2 linked regions of the Homo sapiens genome follow. The protein of the gene in region 1 purifies or fractionates together with the protein of each later gene. This does not show direct contact. Each region holds a gene or a part of one and is shown in the gene's direction. Other genes may lie near its edges. The genes, in order: SKIL and GLI3.

The links.
Region 2: the proteins of SKIL (region 1) and GLI3 purify together in Homo sapiens (co-immunoprecipitation; one study listed by IntAct). This does not show direct contact.

What each region holds. Positions count from the first base shown.
Region 1 is NC_000003.12:170,388,500-170,392,319, forward strand, and holds part of SKIL (ski-like protein), read left to right. Parts: intron 1-1,723; coding exon 1,724-1,965; intron 1,966-2,536; coding exon 2,537-2,761; intron 2,762-3,759; coding exon 3,760-3,820. UniProt on the Homo sapiens protein: May have regulatory role in cell division or differentiation in response to extracellular signals.
Region 2 is NC_000007.14:42,027,610-42,031,429, reverse strand, and holds part of GLI3 (transcriptional activator GLI3), read left to right. Parts: intron 1-3,820. UniProt on the Homo sapiens protein: Has a dual function as a transcriptional activator and a repressor of the sonic hedgehog (Shh) pathway, and plays a role in limb development.

The sequences.
Region 1 (3,820 bases):
TTGGCTCACTGCAACCTCTACCTCCTGGGCTTAATCCATCCTTTCACCTCAGCCTCCCAAGTAGCTGGGACTACAGGGATGTACCACCATGCTCGGCTAATTTTTGTATTTTTGGTGGAGTTGGGGTTTTGCCATGTTGAGGCTGGTCTCAAACTCGTGAGCTTAAGCAATCCACCTGCCTCAGCCTCCCAAAGTGTTGGGATTACTGGTGTGAGCCACCGCGCTTGGCCGTGTTAGTGTTCTTTGAAGCACAAAAGTTTTAAATGTTTATTACATCCAATTTATCTATTTTTTTCTTGTTTTAGGTATCATATCTAAGAAACTATTGCCTAATCCCAATTCCAAGAAATATTTATTTATGTATTTATTTATTTATTTATTTATTTTTGAGACAGAGTCTCACTCTGTTGCCCAGGCTGGAGTACAGTGGTGCCATCTCAGCTCACTGCAACCTCCACCTCCCGGGTTCAACCAATTTTTCTGTCTCAGCCTCCTGAGTAGCTGGGATTACAGGTGCGCGCCACCATGCCTGGCTAATTTTTTTTGTATTTTTAGTAGAGACAGAGTTTTACCATGTTGGTCAGGCTGGTGGTGAACTCCTGACCTCAGGTAATCCACCTGCCTCGGCCTCCCAAAGTGCTGGGATTATAGGCGTGAGCCACCACATCCAGCCAAGAAATTTATGTTTAAGGGTTGTAGCTCTTACATTTAGGTCTTTGATCAGTTTAGAGTTAATTTTTGTATACAGCATAAGGTCCAACCTTATTCTTTTGCATGTGGATATAGTTGTCCGTATGTTGAAAAGATTATTCTTTCCTTTTTTTTTTTTTTTGAGACGGAGTCTTGCTCTGTTGCCCAGGCTGGAGTGCAGTGGCGCTATCTCGGCTCACTGCAAGCTCCGCCTCCCAGGTTCACGCCATTCTTCTGCCTCAGCCTCCCGAGTAGCTGGGACTACAGGCGCCCGCCACCAAGCCTGGCAAATTTTTTGTATTTTTTAGTAGAGACAGGGTTTCACCATGTTAGCCAGGATGGTCTCAATCTCCTGACGTCGTGATCCGCCCTTCTCGGCCTCCCAAAGTGCTGGGATTACAGGCGTGAGCCACCGCGCCTGGCCAGAAAAGATTATTCTTTCCTGACTGAATTGCTTTGGCACCTTTGTCAACAACAATTGCCTTATAAAGTATGAGTTTTTTAAATTTCTGGACTCTGAATTCTGTTCTACTGATCTGTATGTCTATCTTTAAATCATGTCACACAGTCTTGATTTCTGTAGCTTTGTAGTAAGCTTTGAAATTGGGAATTGTGAGTCTTTCAACTTCGTTATTCTTTTTCAAGATTATTTTGCCTATTTTGGGTTTGTTGCATTTCCATATGGATTTTAGAAACTGCTTTTCAATTTCTGCAAAAAATCCAGTGGGGATTTTGATAGGGATTGCACTGATAAGTAGATCAATTTGGAGACTATTACTGTCTTAACAATATTAAGTCTTCCAATCCATGAATTTGGGATGTCTTTCCATGTATTTAGGTCTTAAATTTCTTTTAGTGATGTTTTGTAGTTTTCATTGTACTTGCACTGCTTTTGTTAAATTTATTCCTATTTTATTTGTTTTGGTCTAATTTATAAATGAAATGTTTTAAAAATTACATTTATGGATTGTTCTAGTGATTTTTTTAATGGAGTGATATTCATACTTTGTTACTTGATTTTTTTCTCTCCAAGATGCATCAATCTCAAATAATTCTACAAGTAAAAGGAAATCTGAGTCTGCCACTTGCAACTTAGTCAGAGACATAAACAAAGTGGGAATTGGCCTTGTTGCTGCCGCTTCATCTCCGCTTCTTGTGAAAGATGTCATTTGTGAGGATGATAAGGGAAAAATCATGGAAGAAGTAATGAGAACTTATTTAAAACAACAGGAAAAACTAAACTTGATTTTGCAAAAGAAGCAACAACTTCAGATGGTAAAATTGTTATCTAAATGATAGTCCATTATGAAAAGATACTTTTGTATATTGCTCTGTCGCCCAGGCTGGAGTGCAGTGGCGCAGTCTCAGCTCACTGAAACCTCCACCTCACAGGTTCAAGCAATTCTTCTGCCTTAGCCTTCCGAGTAGCTAGCATTACAGGCACGTGCCACCATGCCTGGCTAAATTTTGTATTCTTAGTAGAGATGGGGTTTCTCCATGCTGGCCAGGCTCGAACTTTTGACCTTGTGATCCACCAGCCTTGGCCTCCCAAAGTGCTGGGATTACAGGTGTGAGCCACTGCGCCCAGCCCCCCTGTATATTCTTAGTAAGAAAAGTCAAAACGAGATGCTACAAATGTACTTAAGATTATTGTTTTACACTGAAAAGCAATTTTAATATATTTTAAAATTTTTTGAGAAAATAGTTTTTTAAAATAATTACCTCTATATAGAACTGATAATGATAGCTGAATTTTAGGTATTTTCTGTGCTATGTTTTCCAGAACTGAAAATTTTAACATGGTGAAAATAAAGTAAAACTTGTATTGTGATTCTTTACATTACAGGAAGTAAAAATGTTGAGTAGTTCAAAATCTATGAAGGAACTCACTGAAGAACAGCAGAATTTACAGAAAGAGCTTGAATCTTTGCAGAATGAACATGCTCAAAGAATGGAAGAATTTTATGTTGAACAGAAAGACTTAGAGAAAAAATTGGAGCAGATAATGAAGCAAAAATGTACCTGTGACTCAAATTTAGAAAAAGACAAAGAGGCTGAATATGCAGGACAGGTAAGAATTACTGTTTGTATAATGGTGCCCTTTCAGCATGGAAATGGAAACTGTTACTTCTCTCTTTTTTTTTTTTGAGACAGAGACTGCTCTGTCGCCCAGGCTGGAGTGCAGTGGCACAATCTCAGCTCCCCACAACCTCTGCCTCCCGGGTTCAAGCAATTTTCCTGCCTCAGCCTCCTGATTGTAGCTGGGATTACAGGCGTGCGACACTATGCCCAGCTAAATTTTGTATTTTTTAGTAGAGACGGGGTTTCACCATGTTGGTCAGTCTGGTCTTGAACTCCTGACCTCATGATCTGCCCACCTCAGCCTCCCAAAATGCTGGGATTACAAGCATGAGCCACTGCACCCGGCCACCGTTACTTCTCTAATAAAGGAATTACTTTTTGTCAAGCTCAGTTTACTAAGCTAGATTTCAAAATAGATAATTCTGTTAAACATAGCTTTATGCTGTATTGTCCAAGATGATTATTTTGATGTTTGTTGCTTTTATTAGTTTAAATTTTTATCGGGTTACTGCAGTTTAGTTACCTAAATTGCTAATCTCTAGCCCTCTGAATATTATATGTTATATTATTTTAATGTAGTATATGAGCTTTCAAATCTACAAATTAACAAACAGGAACTGTTGCCTGTTATGTTCAAAAGCACTGGAGCAAAAATAAGCAATTCTCTTTTGTTAATAGAATCTCACAATTTAAGGAACATGAACAAATAACTAACATGAGCAGGCTGTGATGAGCGGTATAGTAAAGTATAGGGCATAATGAACATGAACATGCTGGATGTGTTCCTTCCTCTTGTTCCTTTGCTTTTTCTTAAATTTAGTGTCCTGTCAGATGTCAGATTAATAGTATTAGATGCTTAATGGATTTAGTATACATGAAATAGTTCGTTTTGTAAAAAGTAATTTGAAAATAGATATTTTCTATGATATGAGGATTAAATGGAAAAACAAAACAATTAAAATTGATAGCGCCTTTTAAATCACATAGTTGGCAGAACTGAGGCAGAGATTGGACCATGCTGAGGCCGATAGGCAAGAACTCCAAGATG
Region 2 (3,820 bases), on another chromosome or scaffold:
TACACTTACTCACCTCAGGAGGCCTCTGACTGTGTTAGCACGTTGCTTGGGAAGATCTGGGCCATCTAACACTTTCTTTCTACTGATCTTATTGACTAAATATAGATTAACAGTTACAGGTCACATTTTTATAAATGTTTGTTGTTATTGTCTTAAATTACCCCATCTTTCATATAGTTATTTAGAAACAAAAGCTATAAAAGTAATTTTAGAAATAATAACAGATTAATTGTTGAATGCAGAGAATTCAGAATCAGAATGTAAAATTAATTTCTGGTGACTCATTGGAAAGAGTGGGGTGAACAGAAACATGGAGGCTATGAGGATGGGAAGCACAGGTACCAAGGTTTAGACTGTAGATTATGTCCTGCTCTAGAGAAGGTATAAGAGATTATTAACAATTTCAACTATGCCTGGGTGTGGTGGCTCATGCCTGTAATCCCAGCACCTTGGGAGGCCGAGGCGGCCGGATCACTTGAGGTCAGGAGTTCAAGACTAGCCTGGCCAACATGGTGAAACCCCATCTCTACTAAAAATACAAAAATTAGCTGGGCATGGTGGTGCATGCCTGTAATCCCAGCTGCTCGGGAGGCTGAGGCAGGAGAATCGCTTGAACCTGGGAGGCGGAGGTTTCAGTGAGCTGAGATCGTGCCACTGCACTCCAGCCTGGGAGACAGAACGAGTCTCCATCTCAAAAAAAAAACAAGAAACAAAAAAACAAAAAAAAAAAAAACAAATCAACAATAGTAATAATTTCTATTTGTAGGAAATTGTGGAATGAATACATGAACTATTTAGGAAGGTTCTTATTCAGGGCCCCTAAAAATAGAATTTACCTTCTGTTTTTAATTCTGATATCTTTAATCAGCAAAGTCTGTCCTGTGCCATTGAAGTGCTGCAGAAAGAAATGGATGTAGACACTAGCTTCGTTTGTGTAATACTGCTTTACAGACATGTTGTCAAATTGTAGTTTTCAGAGGAAAACATAGTTTTCTTTGAGGTGACTCTTTTGAGTGTGGTAGGCAGGATAACGGCCCCAAAGATGTCCACATCCTAATCCCCAGGACCTGTGAATAGGTTACCTTCCATGCCAGAACGACTTTTGCAGGTGTGATTAAGCTAAGGATCTTGAGATGAGAAGATGATCCTCGATTATCCGGGTGGCAGTGATGTAATCACAGGGTCCCCTGTGAGAGGGAAGCAGGAGAGGCAAGTTAGGGTCAGAGGAGGAGGAGGAGGAGGCCTGAGTGATGTGGACCCCTGAGCCAAGGAATGTGGGCAGCCTCCAGGTAATGGAACAGGCAGGGAGCCTAGACCGTCTGGAATAATGCAGCCCCGCCGGCCTATTGCAGACTTCTGACTTCCAGAACTGTAAGGTAATAAACAGTGTCTGTTTTTTTAAGCCACTCAGTTTGGGCTGTTTGTTGCAGCAGCAACAGGGAACTAATAGACACTGAAGAATGGATTCAGTCACTCATTGACTCAGTACTGCGTGTCTGCTCTGCCAGGCACACTGCCCGGCCCAGCTGGACCTTGCCTCCTAGACAGAGAGACAGAAAGAGTTTTAGAGAGTACTGCGTGCTGCCATGAGAATAGAATTGTCACGCAGTAGAAAACGATGGGGCAAGGAGGTGCAGAGGGGCCTCGTTTTGATGGGGCATGAGTCTAAGAAGGCCCCTCTGAGGAGGTGACATTTAAGCTGGAACGTGAATGTAAAAAAGGAAGTGGCCATTGTGAGCTCTGGAAGCCAAGGGTTCCAGGCAGGGGACACTGTGAGTGCTGAAGATGCAGAGGGACTCATGCTGTGACAGGAGGCAAAAGGATGCAGGACTCCCCTCCTCCACGGCCCTCCCCACCTTGATTTAAAGGAGGAGGCTGTGGTGGCTCAGGTTTTCTTATCCCCCTAGTGGGAAAACCTCAGGAGAATCTTTTCATACCTTGATCTTGCCCAAGAGAGTTGAGGGTATGCGTGGGAGGCATCCTTTCTCATGGGCATTTTGTCTGCGACTCTTGACATCCGTTTGCTGTGCCCAGTCATCGCCCGTCCTCTGCCCCAGCACTCTGATGGCAGTGTTCTGAGAGCAGAGGAGCCTTGACTCCCAAATCTGTTAAGTGATACTGTGTCAGAGCTGAGAACTTTCTACTTTTGTCATCAAATTCTAAATTGGCTTTGTCATCTGGAGTGGAGCAGCCTTCCTGCGCACAGTCCCTGGCAGGAGCAGCAGCAGAAGGTCGAGGGCCAGCCCTTCTGGGTCCAGACAAGCTGTCCCATACCCTGCCCTGGCCCAGGTCTGTGCACGAGGAGGAGGAGAATGTTTCTGTTGCTGGCTTCTTATGAATAAGCACTGAAGGCTCAGGATCACCGTCCACTGTGTGTTCCCTCATAGCCCTTGCAGTCTAATTGTTGATGTGGATTTTAGAGAACATTTATTCCCGTCACCTGGTTTTACCAGCAAAAAGGTGGAGGCCCTGAATGGGGATATGGCCAAAGTATGTGAAGAGCTTTCAGAACCCCTACCCCTGCTCCCCGAGGACAAGGAGGATCGTAGACCTAGGAAACTGCGGTGGGAATGCTGAGTCTTATCTTTTGTAAGGATATCTCCTACATCTTTTTATTTCTTTATTTTTATTTATTATTATTATTATTATTATTATTATTTATTTTTGAGACGGAGTCTTGCTCTGTCACCCAGGCTGGAGTGCAGTGGCGCGATCTTGGCTCACCGCAACCTCCGCCTCTCCAGTTCAAGTGATTCTCCTGCCTCAGACTCTCGAGCAGCTGGGATTACAGGTGCATGCCATCACGCCTGGCTAATTTTTGTATTTTTAGTAGAAACGAGGTTTCGCCATGTTGGTCAGGCTTGTCTCGAACTCCTGACCTCAGGTGACCCACCCGCCTCAACCTCCCAAAGTGCTGGGATTACAGGCGTGAGCCACCGCGCCCGGCCTCCTACATCTTTTTTAAAATGCACTTCCCTTATCCGTCTGTGAATGCTTTTGAGTTGCTTTTGTATAAAATCAAGGGCATGTTTTCTGAATGGTCTCTATTTTTAATTAAGTACTGATTTTTTAAGCCCCCAAATGTCGTGTCTCCCAGAATTAGAAGTATAAATGACCTTCAGGGACCCTCTTTCAACTCTGCCAGATAGTCTAGGCTCCTAGAACCCTGGAAAGGTGTTTGGAGATACATGCAAAGTCGGTGTGCCATGGTAATTATATGTGAAGTGGGTTATTTTGGTTTTTGTTTATTTAATGAATAGAATAACGTAGTTACACTTAGTAATACTCATTCACCCAAAGGAAGGGGGGCTGTTAAATCATTGTGTTTTTTGATGAATGGCTTGTACACTGAAAAATAAATTGGACAAACTGGCATAGAGCTCAGTGAACATGAAATCAGCTATTAGAAGAAAGCTTGTGAACAAATTCTGAGGCAGATATGCATCTTTTGATTAATGCCCTATCAATCATCCACACAGCTACCTTAGCTAAGTCTTGCCATAATCATTCATGCTTGCTTTTGGAAACACTGGCAGTAACTATAACGCTGCAGAAACGGAATATTATTACTGATTTCTCCCTAACTTACTGTGAACAATGACTGTTTTCACCACGTTTCTGCTTTCCTTTATTAAGGAAATACAATGTAGAATGAAAGGAGAGTTTCTCAAAGCCTGGTGAAATTCTCCTAGGGTATTCTTAATGATATTCAGTCTTAAATGGGCAAGCTATTGTAATGTAAGGTTCTCTGCAGGAATGATAGTAATGTAATCCCATTGAAGCTGCCTGTTATGGATTGTAGTCAAATAGGCAAAATGTA